Linked DNA regions of Homo sapiens: region 1 is linked to region 2. Evidence: fine-mapped expression QTL. A gene starts in region 2. The other region holds a variant in brackets. All regions are shown on one strand. Distances are from middle to middle.

Evidence for each region. PIP is the estimated chance that this variant, and not a neighbour inherited with it, causes the effect.
Region 1: its variant is the best candidate, but not a certain one, in a credible set for the expression of MED19 in breast (GTEx, PIP 0.72).

The regions. Positions count from the first base shown.
Region 1 is chr11:57,872,134-57,881,982 of GRCh38, forward strand. No RefSeq gene overlaps it. Among named protein-coding and RNA genes, the nearest start is that of CTNND1, 120 kb to the left of the region's middle. The variant T/TG (reference allele first, on the strand shown) is at 4,352.
Region 2 is chr11:57,707,020-57,716,827 of GRCh38, forward strand. It overlaps MED19 (mediator complex subunit 19), which reads right to left and starts at 5,196. Exons shown (of 5, transcript NM_001317078.4): 1 at 4,944-5,196. The coding sequence starts at 5,160. It overlaps TMX2 (thioredoxin related transmembrane protein 2), which reads left to right and starts at 5,574. Exons shown (of 8, transcript NM_015959.4): 1 at 5,574-5,788. The coding sequence starts at 5,600. TMX2-CTNND1 (TMX2-CTNND1 readthrough (NMD candidate)) reads left to right here and starts at 5,504. Exons shown (of 21, transcript NR_037646.1): 1 at 5,504-5,788. RefSeq lists a silencer at 4,827-5,166 and an enhancer at 8,534-9,044.

The DNA.
Region 1 (9,849 bases), 170 kb after region 2:
CCTTCCCAATCCCTCTCTTCCACCATCTTCCCACGGCCCAGTACTGCATTCCCTCCTAATCCTCCACTGCTCCCATCTCAACTTCCATATGGCCATTTGATTCCTTCAGAGACACACCTATTAATAATTCTCAATTGTTGTGACCTCGGCAACAGCCTTCCAGGTGTACTTTGAGGTTCCCAAGTGCAGAGTATTTCCAGGTTTCCTCTATCATCCCTCCAGGTCTCCTCAAGCATCCCTCCAGGTCTCCTCTAGCATCCCTCCAGGTCTCCTCTAGCATCCCTCCAGGTCTCCTCTAGCATCCCTCCAGGTCTCCTCTATCATCCCTCCAGGTCTCCTCTATCATCCCTTCCGGCTTCCTCTATAATCCCGCAATGCCATCCCTCAGTCCTTCTAGTAAGACTTCCCTTTCCCCAGTGAGTCCTTGTTTTGTGTGCTGTTGTCATCTGGCAGTTGATTTTTACTCACACACATATTTAGAATTGTGTAACAGGGTCTGTCAATGTTTCTAAGTCTTTCTTCCCTCCTGCATGGTGTTGCTTTGCTTCCCTATCACATAACTTCTGAGAGCAGAGGCTGTTTTAAGCTATATAAGAAGCTGTCAGTGACTATTTGAACAACTACTATAATCTGAAAATATTTGAACAATTGCAGTCGTTCAAAAGGGTTTAAACAATTATGGTTGTTCAAAGTATTTAAACCATCATAGTTGTTCAAAGTATTTAAACAATAGCATAAGACACGGCTGTGGCCACTTAAGATCTTAAAATTTTGTTAAGAGACACACTTGCTTCCATGAAAACGAGTGAAGTTGGGTGGAGCCCACTGCCAGCAGGAACCCATTGAGGGAAGGGTGATTGCAGCTTGGGGTGCTCTGGGGAGACTTCAGGACCAGGAGGCACGGGGCTGAGCCTTGAGGAATGAGAAAGGTGTTGCTAGTTGGAGGAGATGGGGAAGTGCGATCACCTGGAACTGGGAATTAACCTCAGTAAACATTTACCGGGCAAAAGGTGCATTGGAAGGGGTCAGGAAACTTGGCAGAGTTACTTAACCTCTCTGAGCCTCAGTTTCTGTGAGGATTGAAAGACAATGCGTGTCAATGTTGTACTCAGCACACTTCTGGAAACAAGGTAGGTACCTGATGTACATTAACTTCCACCAAGTTAGATTATGCGTACCTGATGAATGGGGAGCTGGAAAACATTGCTCAAGACCGTTGAATACCATGGGATCTCAGGAAATGCTTAAAGGCTGACAGAGTAAGGGATGGTGTGGGTGTGGATTTTGAAGGGAAGGGGAAGAGAACAGGCAACCTCAGCCTTCTGAATCAGCTCTGGTGGAACGCAGTAAAATCTGCAATAGAAAAATACCAACCTTAGCAGATGGTGCTCCCCAGCCCGATATACCTCAAGATGGCTGGGGGGACTCAAGATCCTCCCAGGCCAGCCACGTAGGGGTAGTTCTGGGACTCCCTTCCACTCCAGCCTGTATCTTCAATTTCTCCTCTCTAAAGCTGTTCCTGGGGTAGCCACACATTCAGACTTGATAAGACACACAGCTCAGGCAAACAGGATGTGGCATTCAGGACTGAAGCTACGGTTGCATCTTGGTCCTGCCCAGAGCTTATAAAGCTGGCTTCATCTCCTCTTGATCTCTGGTGGCTCTGGAGGCTTAGAGCTCTGGAAGGTCCTTGAAACACACCACCTCCCTACCTGGGAGGTTCAGGCCTCAGGGAAGAAGAGATTATCTCTCCCTCTAGATTTCAGGCATTTGTTTTGTTCTTGAGGCACAGCGGGGATAGGGGGGTTAGGATCTCCTTGAGGAGATGGAGTTTGTCGTTCTAGTTTTTTTTAAGGTAGGATTTCCCTATGTTGCCCCCCAGGCTGGTTTCGAACTCCTGGGCTCAAGCTATTCCCCTGCCTCATTCTCCCAAAGTGCTGGGATTACAGGCTTGAGCCATGATGCCTAGCCATTGTCACTCCGTTCTTGGCAGTAGAAAGTCTTAGCACGAGCCGGTAGGAGACGTCCTGCCTCCTCCTTGGATTCTGAAGTCTGAACGAGGAAAAGTCATCTTGTCCCTTGGGAGCTTACAGGAACCTGGGGGACAGTCTATGAGGTTTTTGACTAAATGACCCAAGGGGCCTTCTTTGCTGAACATTGAGGGTCTGTTGTGGGCCTCAATACTGATCAAACAAATCGGGGACACTAAGTTCAGAGGTTGGTAAGGAGCTGAGAGTGGTCTAGGGTTAGGGCCAGGGCTAGAGCTAAGTCCCTTTTTGCGTCATAAACTTCCGTCACTGTTGCTCAAGGCTGGGTCCCAGCAGTGACGGAGCACTGAGGGGAGCTGGGAGCACACTAGGGCAGGGACTCTGGGGCCCTTCCAGGAAGCTCTCTAGGCTTCACCCACTGGGGACTCATCGGAGGAGGCACTAGGGGCCTTGTTAATGGAATGGGTAGTTTATATTAGCAATTAAAAAATATGATATTTAAAAAAAAATGCTGCTGGGTGCAGTGGCTCACTTCTGTGGTCCCAGCACTTTGAGATGCTGAGGCGGGCAGATCACCTGAGGTCAGGAGCTCGAGACCAGCCTGACCAACACGGAGAAACCCCGTCTCTACTGAAAATACAAAATTAGCTGGGTGTGGTGGCCCATGCCTGTAATCTCAGCTACTCGGGAGGCTGAGGCAGGAGAATCATTTTCACCCAGGAGGCACAGGTTGCGGTGAGCCGAGATCGCGCCGTTGCACTCCAGCCTGGGCAACAAGAGCGAAACTCCATCTCAAAATCCAAGGGAAAAACAAGACAAAAAATAAAAAAATAAAAAGATGATATTTCCAGAAATGAAGCTAACTTCTAAGCACAGGAAATGCTGATGGGCATAAGGAGGAGCCAAGGGATTTGTTACCAGGAGCGAACACACAGACTGATCATCTCCCAGTTGTTGCTTCTCTCCTCCTTTCCTCCCTCTCTGACAGCGCTTTGTGGTGGGAGGGTGGGTTCCTCCTTACGCTTGTGTCAGCTGACTCCGCTGTCCTGAGACTGCGTCTCGAGGAGCTCAGCTGAGGCTACTGGAGTGCTGGTGGTTGTGGTTCTGTGAATAATGGATTGTTCCAGCTAAAGGGAATTACACAGTATCCAGTCCGGCGGGCTCTCAGCTGAGATGTGACGGTACAGCAGTGCCTGAGGCAGGATTGGAGTCCCGAACATGGGAAGACCAAGAACATGCTTGGGGCACCAGCAAAGTAGACGCATCAAAAAAAAAAAAAAAAAAAAAAAAAAGACTCATTTGGACATTTTTTTAAAAAGCACCAGGAAAGGATAGAACGTTGGAATTTGCTTTAAAATAATCTGGCTGGGAAGAGTGGAAAGATAAAGCAAGAACTGATTATAAAATGATAAATGTTGAGGCTGAGTGATAGGTACATGGAAGTCAGTTTATTATACTGTCTGCTTTGGTATATATTTGAACCTTTTAATGGTAATTTTTAAAAACATCGAAGCATCATAGAAAAATTAAAACTTTGTTGCAATTCCTTATACTGAAGTTTTTTTTCAGTTTGGAACTGGGTTAAAGAAAATTCCTAAGTGAGGCTGGGCTCACTGGCTCAAGCCTGTAATCCCAGCACTTTGGGAGACCAAGGCGGGCAGATCACTGGAGGCCAGGAGTTCGAGACCAGTCTGGCCAACATGGCGAAACACCATCTCTACTAAAAACACAAAAAAATTAACCGGGTTTGGTGGTGCACACCTGTAGACCCAGCTACTTGGGAGTCTGAGGTGAGAGAATCTCTTGAACCCAGGAGGTGGAGGTTGCAGTGAGCTGAGATTGTGCCACTGCACTCTAGTCTGGGTGACATAGGGAGACCCTGACTAAAAAAAAAAAGAAAGAAAGAAAATTCATAAGTGGAGTGGTATGCACATAATTTTTCAGTGCTGCTGGAATTATAGACGTGAGCCACCATGCCCAGCTCAGCACTCATCTTAACAGGAAATAAAGCTGGTGTTCAATGAGAAGTGACTTACCCAGGGTCATACAACTAATTAGTTCTAGACTCAAAATTGTAACCCGTGTCTCTTGGATTCCAGTCTACAAATCTTTATGTGGTCCCATCATCCTGTCAAAGAGTGCCTGGTCAATAATTTGGCATAAATGAATGCACAGAGCTTTTTGTCTTGCCCTAACAAGAAGCTTCAGTACTTTGTTACTTTGATTTTTTTGGGTAATTTTTTTTTAATTGAAAACACAAAGATTTAGATGTGTCTACCACTTGACTTAATAAACATGAATATTTTTGTTATACGTTTCAAATATGTTTATTTTTTATTTGTATTAAAAAATTTTTTCAGAGA[T/TG]GGGGTCTCATTCTGTTGCCCAGACTGGCCTCAAACTCCTGGGCTCAAGCGATCCTCCTGCCTCCTCACCGTCTTGAATAGCTGGGACTTCAGGCACATGCCACCATGCCTGGCCTACATACATATTTATTTATTTGAGATGGAGTCTCACTTTATCACCCAAGCAGAGTGCAGTGGGGCGATCTTGGCCCACTGCGAGCTCCGCCTCTCAGGTTCAAGCGATTCTCCTGCCTCAGCCTCCTGAGTAGCTGGGATCACAGATGCCCACTACCATGCCTGGCTAATATTTGTATTTTTAGTAGAGAGGGAGTTTCACCATATTGGCTAGGCTGGTCTCGAACTCCTGACCTCAGGTGATCCATCCACCTCAGTTTCCCAAAGTGCTGGGATTATAGGCGTGAGCCACTGTGCCCAGTTTACAAGGTGTTTTTTTTTTTTTGAGACAGAGTCACACTATGTTGCCCAGGCTGGAGTGCAGTGGTGTGACCTTGGCTTACTGCAATCTCCACTTCCCAGGTTCAAGTGATTCTCATGCCTCAACCTCCCGAGTAGCTGGGATTACAGGCATGTGCCACTATGCCCAGCTAATTTTTGTATTTTTAGTAGAGACAGAGTTTCACCATGTTGTCTAGGCTGGTCTCAAACTCCTGACCTCAAGTGATCCTCCCGCCTCAGCCTCTCAAAGTGCTGGGATTACAGGCATGAGTCACCATGCCCAGCCTTACATAAATATTTAATCAGATAACACACTACAGGTCATTGAAATCCCTATGTATTCTACCCGAGTCCTATGCCTCTCCCTTGCTAGAGAGACAACCATTATCATAAATTTGGCTTGTATCCTTCAGTGCAGGAAAGCATAATTTTCAAAAAAATTAAAACAATAAGATATTGGATTGGATATTCAAGTGGTTCTTGTCCTATATGCAATAAACTGTAAACTTTGGGGCTATCTTTTCTATAAGACAGAAATTATTTGCATCTCTACTGAACAAGAATGTGTAAGTTAACATGTAATTTCACTAAATTTGAGACTTTTAGTCAATAGGAAGCAGTGAGTCAAATCAAGTATATTCTCCTGAATTACCCTTGGTGGACCTATTAAATCTATTAAATAATGTCCCCATATGATATTGAAAGGACATCCCACACCTTTTCCCATTATTTCCACGTTTAGAATAATTTTTTTTAGCAAGTCTATATTTTACTACTGATGTGAATCTATAAGTAATAATAATAATCATGAGCATTTATTGGTGCCAGCACTCTTTTAAGGCAAAGGTACATATTAAGTCCATTTAGTCCCTCGACACCAACATTAGGTCCAATTATTATTCTTATTTTACAGATGGAAAACAGACACAGAGAAGTAAATTCCACAGTTATATACAGTTAGAAAGTGGAAGAACTATGATTTAATCCCAGAGTTTACATATTAGTTTGCCATTTGCTGTTTTGCTCTCAACATAATATTTTGAAGAACTCTTCAGGATGTTAATATAGTTATTAAAAAAAATAGAGATGGGGTGTCTCTTTGTTGCCCAGGATGGTCTTAAACTCCTGGCCTCAAGCAATCCTCTCACCTTGGCCTCCCAAAGTGCTGGGATTGCTGGCATGAGCCACCATGCCCAGCCAATGCTAATAACATAGTTATAGTTCATCATTCATTTTAACTATAATTTTACCATAGAGTGTTCCACTGTATATAGTATGTATCTGGTTACATACAACGTGTGTGAACCGTCACTTTATGTTAAATGAAGTAAACCAGACTCAAAAGGACAACTGTTGCATGATCTCACTTATACAATGATATGGTTTGGAATTGTGTTCCACTCAAATCTCATGTCCAGTTGTAATCCCCAGTGTTGGAGGAGGGGCGTAGTGGGAGGTGATTGGATCATGGGGGAGGACTTCTGCCTTGCTGTTCTTGTGATAGTGAGTGAGTTCTCATGATATCTGGTTGTTTAAAAGTGTGTGGCATCTGGCTGGGCGCAGTGGCTAACACCTGTAATCCCAGTACTTTGGGAGGCTGAGGCAGGTGGATCACCTGAGGTCAGGAGTTCGAGGCCAGCCTGGCCAGCATGGTGAAACCCTGTCTCTACTAAAAATACAAACATTAGCTGGGTGTGGTGGTGCCCGCCTGTAATCCCAGCTACTCGGGAGGCTGAAGCATGAGAATCGCTTGCACCCAGGAGGCAGATGTTGCAGTGAGCTGAGATAGTGCCACTGCACTCTGGGTGACAGAATGAGACTCCATTTCAAAAAAAAAAAAAAAAAAAAGTGCGTGGCACCTCTCTTCTTCCTGCTCCAGCTATGTAAGACATCCCTGCTTCCCCTTCACCTTCTGCCATGATTGAAAGTTTCCTGAGGGCTTCTCAGCCATGCTACCTGTACAGTCTTCAGAACTGTAAGCAAATTAAACCTCTTTTCTTTATAAATTACCCAGTCTCATGTATTTCTTCATAGCAGTGCAAGAACAGACAAATACAAGATAACTAGAATAGGCAAATTCATAGATACAGAAAGTAGACTAGGGGCTGGGGGAAGAAGGGAGGGAATGGGAAGTTGTTAATAGGTACAGAGTTTCTGTCTGAGATGATGAAAGATTCTGAAAAGGGACAGTGTTGATGCTTGCACAATATTGTGAATGCACTTAAATTGTATATGTACAATCTATATTGTATGCAATATACTTAGATTGTAAATTGTATATTTGAATGGTTAAAATGATAAACTCTATGTTAAAAAGAGAGGATGTGATGGTTCCTGACTTCCAGGCTTGCTGTAAGAGTTAAATGATAGACTACTTGTGAGAGAACAGGAACACATTGCAGATACTCAGTAAATTGTAGCTGCTGCTAGTTTCTTCCTCCTCTTCTCCCTCGTTTCCTTAGAAAAAGTCAAAAGAGCATGGCTTTTCTTTTGATCTGTATTAATTTCTGAGTTCAGAGTCTGAACATACAATTGTGTAGCTAACTTCCCACTGTCTACATGGGGCCTACTACCCCACCTACTGTCATTTCTTTTTTTTTTTTTTTTGGGACAGTCTTACTCTGTTGCCCAGGCTGGAGTGCAGTGGCATGATCTCAGCTTGCTGCAACCTCCGCCTCCTGGATTCAAGCGATTCTCCTGCCTCAGCCTCCCGAGTCACTGGGATTACAAGCATGCTCCAAAATGCCTGGCTAATTTTTGTATTTTTAGTAGAGATGGGGTTTCACCATGTTGGCCAGGCTGGCTTGAACTCCTGACCTCAGGTGATCCTCCCACCTCGGCCTCCGAAAATGCTAGGATTACAAGTGTGAGCCACTGCGCCCGGCACCCACCTGCTGTCATTTCTAACCCTACCAGGTGGCTGCCTTTCTCAGCCTGGGCTTTTTTACTTTGCCATCGTTGGATGAGTATTTAGAAAGCTCCAGTTTTTCTTAGTGTTAGCCTCCACAAGCACTTAGAAGGAAAATCTGCTGTCAAAACACATTACCTTGTGGGTTTCTGAGACTGAGTTATGTTTGGGGTATCTGTGCAACTGCTGTCTTCCCATGGATGCTGATAACCAAGTGCTGACTGTGAAGGACAAATACAGACATAGAAATGGAGGTGAATGTGTGGACTTTGTTGATTGTTTAAACAGCATAAGCCCAAAGAAGCCAATTTATATGGAAGTGAGAGTAGGTGGGAGAGAGCCCAAGGAGGCCGAAAGAGCATGGCTTTTGCAATTAAACAGGTAAAGACAATCTGGCTTCATCACATTTACCTCGGTTACAATTAGCCTAAGGTTTCTGTTTGCAAAATGAGCGTAAAATACCACAAAGTGTGGTTGTAAAGATTCACCTGAGAGGCATGTCAGTTTGTAAAGCATGGGTTAAGTCTAATTGCCTTCCTTCTCTATTTTGGAATAGAATGAATTAATTAAGCAGGTGTTTTCTCATGGACCCACAAAATGTAAAGTAGAGGAGAGGAAGGACCAATATTTCCCAATAGATAAAGAGAGAAAAAAGAATAGAGTATGTGCGAGGATGGCAAACTTTGTGTAAGGTGAGAAGAGAATAGGGCTTAGGTTTTAGTAGGAGCTTAAAAGAATAACTTGCTGAATTAATGGAATATTTGTTAGATGGGTCTATTACATTTGTCCAGCTACAAGTGACAGAAAACTCAAGCAAGGTGACTTAAGCTGTAAGAATATTTATTCTTTGTTTACAAGAAGTTTTGCAGTGGTCTTGTCAGGAAATGTCTTCTGCAGAAGCCAAGAACCAGCTGGCTGATTTCTCCTAAAGCTCATTGGCCAGATGTATATCATATGATCACTTCTAGCCACAAAGGGCCTGGGAAAGAGCAATTGGCTTATCAAGCCTCTATAGTTTGATGCAGTCAAGAGAGAAAGGGTGGACATTTTTGTTGAGTCTGTAACAGTGGGCTTAGATTGGTAAGAAAGACAAGCATGGTTACTTAATCTACTGATACCAGGTGAGGCTCAGAAAAATGTGCCCTGGATGAATTTGGTGTCTACATGTAAACTGCTGTCACTGTGAAGGAAAAACAAAAACTTCCTCTTATCTGACTGGGCGTGGTGACTCACACCTGTAATCCCAGCACTTTGGGAGGCTGAGGCAGGTGGATCACTTGAGACCAGGAGTTCAAGACCTACCTGGCCAATATGGAGAAACCCTGTCTTTACTAAAAATACAAAAATTAGCCGGGGGTGGTGGTGCATGCCTGTAATCCCTGCTACTCAGGAGGCTGAAGCATGAGAATCGCTTGAACCCAGGAGGCGGAAGCTGCAGTGAGCTGAGATCGCACCACTGCCCTCCATAGTCCAGCCTGGGCAACAGTGAGACTCTGCCTACATAAATAATAAATAAATAAACAAACTTTCTCTTACCTTACCTTGAATATCCTCTCTGTAGCACATGTTCAAATCCTACCTACATATACCTACTGTTTGCTTATTCATGCTTATATGCAGGTATTTTATGCATTAATTAATGTGATAGATATTAATTAAATGCCTACCATGTGCAAGGAGCTGCCCTAGGTCCTTTGACTATCATGGTTTTTATTATCAAGGAGGTTACAGTCTGGTAGAAGAGATATTACTGTACTTCAATGATTATATAATGAACAGCACAAAGGTTTAAGTGCCCTAAAAGAAGTGCTTAGAAGTGCTGTGAAAGGTTCTATGAATGCAGAAATTACTTCTGGCTGGTTTAATCAGGAAAGATTTTTTGGGGGGTGGTGTAGGGAGGTAGGGTTTGCATTGATACAGGTTAAAGAGAGGTGGAGAGGAAAGGTGGTCACCGCGAGATGAAACAGTAGGAATAGGCTGAGAGGGGGAAGTGCTGGGCTTGCCAAGCAATTCTGATCTCTGGTTCCTCCCTTTAGTGACTTCCTGTCTTGCTTTTTGGTGGGGCCACACTTACGTCAATAATTACATACTTTTCATTTATGTGTGTGTATATCCTTTTCCCTCCTAACCAGACTGTAGCATCCACACAGCTGCC
Region 2 (9,808 bases):
AAACCCCATCTCTACTAAAAATACAAAAATTAGCTGGGTGTGGTGGCATGCGCCTGTAGTCACAGCTACTTGGGAGGCTGAGGCAGAAGAACTGCTTGAACCCGGGAGGTGGAAGTTGCAGTGAGCTGAGTTTGCACCACTGCACTCCAGCCTGGGTGGGAGAGTCAGATTCCATCTCAAAAAAAAAAAAAAAAAAGTATTATATGTATGCAAGGCACTATCCATATAAATATTGCATGGCTGATTCTTTTTTAAAAAATATACATTTATTAGTAACTTAATAAGGACCTACTAGCAAGGGTAGAAATAGCTAACTACAACTTCATTTGTAATTATGATAGACACAGAGGGTACAAATGACAAAAATGGCTTGTTTATAATCATTCACTTGGGAAAACTGAGGTACTGAACTGTAAGCTCCTTGGAGGCACAGACAATGTCTTGTTCATTCATGTATCGCTAGTGCCCAGCACAGTACACACATTAGGTGCTTAATAAATATTTATTAAATAAACAAGGCACTTTCCCTCTATACCTCTAGGCCTTATTCATCCTTTTCCTTCCCTTTACTACCAAACAACTCAGAAGACTGAGCGAGGGTAATGGCAGGAGACCCAATGTCACAGTATCTCTCCTCATAACTCTGGGCACTGCCTCTTGCCATTACAATCTTCTGAATTTCCCCTGCTCTGCCAACTCTCCTCTGTCCAGATGGTTATCCTTAAGGCTCAGGTGAGAAGGCAGTCTGTGCTTTTTCTAAACTGTAACTTGAGAGTTCAAATTCCAGTTTTGACTATTCTACAAAGATTACTTTTTATATTTATTTATTTTTTGAGACAGTCTCGCTCTGTCACCCAGGCTGGAGTGTAATGGCACAATCTTAGCTCACTGCAATCTCTGCATCCTGGGCTCAAACTACTTTCCTGCCTCAGCCTCCCAGGTAGCTGGGACTACATGCATACACTGCCATGCTAGGCTAATTTTTGTATTTTTTGTAGAGACAGGGGTCTCCCTATGTTGCCCAGGCTGGTCTTGAACTCCTGGACTCAAGCTATCTGCCTGCCTCAGCCTCCCAAAGTGCTAGGATTACAGGCGTGAACCACCCTGCCCAACAAGATAAAAAAAAAAAAAATTGTTTTGAAATTCCAAATCTTGCCAACATCACTCAGGGCTTCTCTATTTCAATCCATGGCACCCACATGTTCCAGATATTTTTGGAAATCAGTACTCCTCAGTTCACAAATCTTAATGGTTTCTTTTTGCCCTCAGGAGAAAGCTCAAATTCCTTTGACTGGCACTCAAGGCTAATTACATCTTACTCCAACTTAGCTTTGGGGCCTCATCAACCACTACTCTCCTATGCAAAATTTCTGATCCATCCAAATGGATCTCCTTATCGCCTCAAAAAAACACCCCTCACATTATTTCATCTTAGGAAAATTCTTCCTAATTTTTCTTCACCAATATGGATTATTCAAGGTCTAGCTCAAGTGACATCTTATTCTCACTGTCATTCTGGATAGCAACACACTTTGAAAACCATTAGGTAGTTCTTAATATTGATGGCTAAGATATTGTTAATTGCTGTTGTGAGGCATGAGCACAAAATGAGATGGAGGTGACAGGAAATATAGTCACTATCCTTAAACCACAAATTTTACATTCCTAACTAAACTCCTTGAAAAGCAATGACCAGCATTACTAATCTCTCTCTCCATCTCACCCGCCTCATACACCCAGCATTTGCCCAGAACATATATTCAATATCTGTCAACTGACTGATACAAATAGCTACAATCAGAATAGGGAAGGCAAAAGAAAGATTAAAAGAAACCGCTGGTGGACATCAACCACTAACTAATCAAAGGGATGTCAACTTCTCCATGTTTCAGTTTTTTCAATTATAAAATGTAGACAGTAATGCTACCTCAAAGGGCTATTCTAAGTATTAAATACTACTTATATTAAATACTGCATGTAAGTGTGTTGTGAACTTCAAAGTACTATACCAATATTTGTTGCTATTTCCCTCAAGTCATGATGTGGAAATAAGACTTGAGACAATGAAAGGCATCTGGGAGGCTGGGCGCAGTGGCTCACGCCTGTAATCCTGGCACTCTGGGAGGCCAAGGTGGGCGGATCACCTGAGGTTGGGAGTTTGAGATCTGCCTGACCAACAGGGAGAAACCCTGTCTCCACTAAAAATAAAAAATTAGCTGGGTGTGGTGGCACATGCCTGTAATCCGAACTACTCGGGAGGCTGAGGCAGGAGAATCGCTTGAACCTGGGAGGCGGAGGTTGTGGTGAGCTGAGATTGTGCCATTGCACTCCAGCCTGGGCAACAAGAGCAAAACTCTGTTTAAAAAAAAAAAAAAAAGAGGCATCTTGGAGACCAAACATGTCCAAAATAACTCTTGATTTCCACCTCTTCAAACTTGTTCCTTCCTCATCTTCCAAGTCTCCGTACCCATACACCCAATTATTCAAGCCGAAAACTTAAAAAGGCATCAATTCCTCTATTTCCTTCACTTCTATATACAATATATATTTTTAATTGAGACAGGGTCTTCCTCTATCATCCAAGCTGGAGTGCAGTGGCACAATCATGGCTCACTGCAGCCTCAACTTCCTGGGCTCAAGTGATTTCTACCACCTCATCTTCCTAGGTAGCTGAGACTACAGGTGCATGCTGCTATCCCTAGCTAATTTATTTTTATTTTTTGTAGAGATGGGGTCTCATTATGTTGCCCAGGCTGGTCTCAAACTTTTGGGCTCAAGCAATCCTCCCACCTCAGCCTCCCAAAGTGCTGGGATTACTGGCGTGAGCCACAGCGCCTGGCCCTGTATTCAATTTTTCAACCCTGTCAGCTCTACCTCTAACATCCTGTATCCATTTACTTCTCTATGCCCTGCTATGCTCTGGTTCAAACCATTATCTTTCCTGGACTACTGAGCAGTAACTTCTGACTAATTTCCCCACTTTCTATTTGTCATGTGGCTGCTTAAATGATTATAAACAAGTGCATTTGACCAACTTCCTATGTTAAAATGGCTTTCCTTGGCTGGGCACAGTGGCTCAGACCTATAATCCTAGCACTTTGGGAGGCCAAGGCGGGAGGACTGCTGTTGGCCAGGAGTTCAAGACCAGCTTGCGCAACACAGTAAGACCCAGTCTCTACAAAAAAATTTTAAGTTAGCCAACTGTGGTGGTGCATGCCTGTAGTCCTAGCTACTTGGAAGGCTGAGGTGGGACGACAGCATGAGCCTAGGAACTGGAGGTTACAGTGAGCTATGATTATACCACTGCAGTCCAGCCTGGGTGACACAGTGAGACCTTGTGTCTATAAAAAAATTTTTTAAATGGCTTCCTTTTGTATTTACAATCTAAATGCCTTTACTGCTTTATAAAAGCCTCTGCCTAACTCTCCCAGCTTCATCTCTCTCCCTAACACTCTTTCCTTTTGTTCACTTCACTGGAGTCCAACTGATTTTCTGTCCCTCAGATATTCTAAGCTTTTTCTCACATCAGGGTTTCTGACCTCATTTCTTGTATCTACAATTGTCTCTCCCTCCTGTCCATACATGGCTGGCCCTTTGTCTATGCTTACATTTTAGTTCAAATGTTAGCTATGTGAAGAGAGCATCTCTGGCCACTCTAGCTAAAGTAGTTCTGCCCCTCAATTTTTTTTTTTTAAGAGACAGGGTCTCATCTGTTGCCCAGGCTGGAGTGCAGTGGCACAATCTTGGTTCACTGCAGCCTCGACCTCCTGTGTTCAAGCGATTCTCCTCCCTTAGCCTCCTGAGTAGCTGGGGCTACAGGCATGCATTACCACGCCCGGTTAATCTTGTATATTTTGTAGAGACTGGGTCTCGCCATGTTGCCCATGCTGGTCTCAAACTCCTGGGCTCAAGGGATTCTGCCTCGGCCTCCCAAAGCGCTGGGATTACAGGCGTGAGCAACGCGCCTGGCCACCTTCAATTTTTATCATGTTTTCTTTTCCTAGCATTAACCACTTTCTGACATTATCTTGTTTACAATGCCTCCTCCACTGAAATGTACATCCCAAAAAAGGCAAGCATCTTGTCAGTCTTGTTCACAACTGTCTCCAGCATTTAGAAAAGTGCTTGGTACATAGGTACTCAACAAAATAATTTTTTGAATGAAGAGTTTGGTTCGATTCTTATCCCTTTTTTGATCAGACCAGGAAATGCCGGAACCTTAGAAGGAAGAATGGCAACTTGCCCCAAACCAATAGCAAGTCTGTGGGAGACCTGTAACTAAAACTTTGGGTCCCCAAAGATATTAAATCAGGCCTCTCGAGTTCCAAACTCAAACCCTGGATTTTGTTTGTTTTGAGACGGAGTCTCGTTCGCCCAGGCTGGAGTGCAGTGGAGCAATGTCGGCTCTCTGCAACCTCCGCCTCCCGGGGTTCAAACGATTCTCCCGCCTCAGCCTCCCGAGTAGCTGGAATTAAAGGTATACGCCACCACGCCCAGGTAATTTTTGTGTTTTTTGTGGAGACAGGGTTTCATCATGTTGGCCAGGCCGGTCTCGAACTCCTGACCTTAGGTGATTCGCCCGCCTCCGCCTCCCAGAGTGTTGGGATTACAGGCGTGAGCCACCGCGCCCAGCCCTAGGTCATTTTTTAGAGAGACATAAACCAGTGTCAGGGACACAGCCTGGACATGGTGCAAAAGACAGTAACGGAGATGCACTACGCCCCTGCCCGCCATTCATCCCTTTGGTTGAATTCAACTCATCCTGGTTGAATTCAAGTCATCCCTCTGCTTGTGAATCCTAACAGCGCTTCCGACTTAGGGCTCCACAGTCCGGGTATGCGTTGCCTAGGTTACCTCGCACCTCCGCTAGCCGGCTGAGAGCCACGCCCATCACCTCCTCTCTAAGATTTGATTGGCTGGCTTTGGCAAGGCCGAGTACTCACCTGGCAGTTCCCTCATGAGGTAAAAAGGGCCACAGCCAGCTCCTGACTTGTCCGCGCCAGGAGGAGCCGTGGCCGCGGTGGGAGGCGGGGCCGTGCCGGGTCCCCCGCCCGCAGGAGGCGGTGGCGGGGGTGGAGGCTTTCCTGGTCCGAAGCCGAGTGCGGTTGGGGGCGGTGGTGGGTCAGCCTGAGCCCCAAACAGTGCCGTGAAATTCTCCATCGTACCCTCCGCCCCGGCGCTGTCTCCGTGTCTGCCGTTGGTAATTTTCATTGGACAATGCTTTCAAGGAGTACCCCCCCGCCCTTTCTCAAGGAGCCGCTTGTCATTGGATGCCTCAGGCACCGCCTACCTTTTTTCAACAACTACTTCCGTCGCCTTATGAGAACGTTCAGGAAGTGCTATTTAACCTTATTAGAGTCTTCTGCTAGCTCTGCTTGCTACAGTCCAATAAAATGACTTAGGCGGATAAAGCGACAACTAGACTAACCAATAAAATATTAAGTTCTTTTTTGGGTTCTGACCTACCACAGCGTTCAGAGAACTACATCCGGGTTTAGAGGCCGTACGTTTGCGATATAGCCCAATAGCAGTCGTTATGGTGGGGGAGGCGGGGCGAGACCTACGACGCCGGCGAGCAGTGGCCGTTACGGCCGAAAAGATGGCGGTCTTGGCACCTCTAATTGCTCTCGTGTATTCGGTGCCGCGACTTTCACGATGGCTCGCCCAACCTTACTACCTTCTGTCGGCCCTGCTCTCTGCTGCCTTCCTACTCGTGAGGAAACTGCCGCCGCTCTGCCACGGTCTGCCCACCCAACGCGAAGACGGTAACCCGTGTGACTTTGACTGGGTGAGCCTCCCGCGTGTTAGTACCCCGCGACCTTGACTGTCCCTGCCCTTGCAGGTGTATCTGGGAACCCTGGGGTTTACCTCTCTGAGGACACCTGAGGTTCCGAGCCTGTAGCGGACTTAGAGACTATTAAGTGCAGGGTCCGAACCATCATCGAGTCTAAACTTTGTGTTTAAGATGGGAAAACGGAACATGTTAGTCGTAGCCCATGCACAACGGCCCAACAGCTTTTGACTGTTGAGTCCAGGTTTCTTTCTGTTTCACCATTGAGACTAATTAACAGCCCTATCAAAACTGTACATACACGTGTATAACGTTTTACAGTGCCGCTCATTATGTAAAGCCTCCTGAGGAGCCAGTAAGGTAGACAAGGCAAGTAGTAATATTCCTGTTTCATTGGTGAAGAAATGGATCTCGGTATATTTAGGTGACTTGCCCCAGGTCATACAACTAATGAGTGCCTGGGACTTGAAACTACTCTTCTGGCCACACTACCTGCACAACACTGTCAGCCGCTTCTTAATTCAATAAACATTTCTAGAGTGTACACTCTAGGCACTCTGCTTGATCCTGAAGATGCGAAAGTGGATAAAATTTGGGGGCTACTGTAAAGGAATTGTAAAAAATACGTTGTAAAGAAATCTTTGGGATTTCTTTGGGAAGTGTCCCAAGCTCCTTGCTGTGCTTCCTTGGTATGGGTGGAGGGACTGCTCGGAACATAAACTTAAAGCACTTTCCCTTCTGCCATATAGCATGTAGGGGCCAAGGAAAAGCTTCCCCTTTGCTCTCTGAGGGTTTGTTGAAAAATCAACCGACAAAGGGCACATTAATAGGAGAAAGGCATAGAAATTTTATTTTAACGTGCATAGCATGAGGGAATTGCAGGAGAATGACCCAGTGGGGTACAGATGCTTATATACCCTCTTTCATAGGAATATGGGAGATGGGAAAATGTGGGTGATTTTAAGGTGGATCGTAAATGATTTTTAGGGTGATTCAGTGGCCTGGAGAACATACAGTGGCCTGGGACAATGACTGTTGGGCCTGCAGAGCAGACAATGGTTTCTGACAAAAATCTGTCCAGGTGTGTTGACAGGCTTCCATCTTTCTTCTTGTACTGAAGTAAGTTAATGAAAACTCAGGGAAGAGACCAGAAGTAATTGTTGTCTTCTTTGACAGGTCTGGACTTTAGGCAGATAAGGTAGTTATCAGAGTAAAGCTGCTTCCAGTATCTGCTGGTTTCCAGGGACCTTTAATTTAAAATGATTAGCATACAGGATGCCATATTTTGGGGTGTGAGTCCCTGGTCTTCTTTATTTCCTTTGTCTGAAACTTCCTTAGAAGTTTCACTATAAGCTGAGTTGGTGTCTGTGGAGAGAGAAATCGGGCTAGTAATTGAGCGGCAAAGGATCCCATTAAACCAGCCTCTCATTTTGGGGGATAGTCCAGTTCAATTAAATTGTTGTGTCTCATTTCAGAAGATGGCATTGTAGATGAGTTCTCAAAGCTAGGCCTCTGTATATGATGTAGGCAAACAGGTATTTAATAAGAGAGACATTTCTATGGAACAAGACAAACAAAGCTTAATATCTGGTATAGTCTATAAACTAGTTTCTTTAGAGTCTGGAGGGCAGTCAATTGGGAAGATTAATAGCAATCTATTTTCCTAGATTGTAGGTTGTGTGTAAAGTTTGTCCAAATATAAGCTTTTGTGGTGATTTTTTTTTCAAAGTCACGTTGACTAGCTTTAGCTGGTAAGGCCTTAGGAAAAAGGCAGGGTTTTTAGTTTTTTGGATTTTTTTTTGAGACAAGGTCTTGCTCTGTCATCCAAGCTGGAGTGCAGTGATGTGATCATGGCTCACTGTAGTCTTAACCTCCTGGGCAAAGCCATCCTGCCACCTCAGCTTTCCAGGTAGCTGGAACCAAAGGCATGCACTACACACCTGGCTAATTTTTAAAAATTTTTTTTCAAGGTGGGGTCTCTTGATGTTGCCCAGGCTGGTCTTGAACTCCTGAGCTCAAGGGATCCTCCTGACTTGGCTTCCTAAGGAGCTGGGATTTACAGGTGTGAGCCACTGCGCCAAGCTAAAAAAGGCCGTTTTAATTTTTAGTGATTCTAAGTCAGAAGAGTGGGTGAAAAATGGAAAACATTAGTCTGGAGGTTAGCAATTTTATGAGTCCAGTTTTATTTTCATTAGACTTTGGAAATTTTTACCCAGTCCGGTGATACAGTTTCAAAGTTATCAGAAACCTTTATTTGTCAGCATTCTTCCCATGCTTTCCATGATCCTCCTTGAAAATAAGACACTTGGCCAGGCATGGTGGCTCACATCTGTAATCCCAGCACTTTGGGAGGCTGAGGCGGGTGGATTTCCTGAGCTCAGGAGTTCGAGACCAGCCTGGCCAACATGGTGTAACCCCGTCTCTACTAAAAATACAAAAAATTAGCTGGGTGTGGTGGTGGGTGCCTGTAATCCCAGCTACTCTGGAGGCTAAGGCAGGAGAATCACTTGAACCTGAGAGGCAGAGGTTGCAGTGAGCCAGGATCGTGCCATTGCACTCCAGCCTGGGCAACAAGAGCAAAGTTCTGTCTCAAAATAAATAAATAAATAAAATTAAAAAAATATATTTTATATATAATATATATGTATTAATGTGCTTTTAATACTAAAGCTGATTTTAATAAACTTTACAAACAAATCTGTCTAATCTTGATCAGCTTTGACTAGACAAGATAAAATTTCCATAAACCTTTTATAACCTCTTAGAATTTGTTTTCTTTTTTTTTTCTTTTATTGATCATTCTTGGGTGTTTCTCGCAGAGGGGGACTTGGCAGGGTCATAGGACAATAGTGGAGGGAAGGTTGGCAGATAAACAAGTGAACAAAGGTCTCTGGTTTTCCTAGGCAGAGGACCCTGCCGCCTTCCGCAGTGTTTGTGTCCCTGGGTACTTGAGATTAGGGAGTGGTGATGATTCTTAACGAGCATGCTGCCTTCAAGCATCTGTTTAACAAAGCACATCTTGCACCGCCCTTAATCCATTTAACCCTGAGTGGACACAGCACATGTTTCAGAGAGCACAGGGTTGGGGGTAAGGTCACCGATCAACAGGATCCCAAGGCAGAAGAATTTATCTTAGTACAGAACAAAATGAAAAGTTTCCCGTGTCTACTTCTTTCTACACAGACACGGCAACCATCCGATTTTTCAATCTTTTCCCCACCTTTCCCCCCTTTCTATTCCACAAAACCGCCATTGTCATCCCGGCCCGTTCTCAATGAGCTGTTGGGTACACCTCCCAGACGGGGTGGTGGCTGGGCAGAGGGGCTCCTCACTTCCTAGTAGGGGTGGCCGGGCAGAGGCGCCCCTCACCTCCCGGACCGGGCGGCTGGCCGGGCGGGGGGCTGACCCTCCCACCTCCCTCCTGGACGGGGCGGATGGCCGGGCGGGGGGCTGACCCCCCCCCACCTCCCTCCCGGATGTGGGGCTGACCCCCCCACCTCCCTCCCGGACGGGGCGGCTGGCCGGGCGGGGGGCTGACCCCCACACCTCCCTCCCGGACGGGGCGGCTGGCCGGGCGAGGGGCTGACCCCCCCACCTCCCTCCCGGACGGGGCGGCTGGCCGGGCGGGGGGCTGACCCCCCCACCTCCCTCCCGGACGGGGCGGCTGGCCGGGCTGAGGGGCTCCTCACTTCCCAGTAGGGGCGGCCGGGCAGAGGCGCCCCTCACCTCCCGGACGGGGCGGCTGGCCGGGCGGGGGGCTGACCCCACCTCCCTCCCGGACGGGGCGGCTGGCCGGGTGGGGGGCTGACCCCCCCACCTCCCTCCCGGACGGGGCGGCTGGCCGAGCGGGGGGCTGACCCCCCCACCTCCCTCCCGGACGGGGCGGCAGGCCGGGTGGGGGGCTGACTCCCCCACCTCCCTCCCGGACGGGGTGGCTGGCCAGGCAGAGGGGCTCCTCACTTCCCAGTAGGGGCGGCTGGGCAGAGGCGCCCCTCACCTCCCGGACGGGGCGGCTGG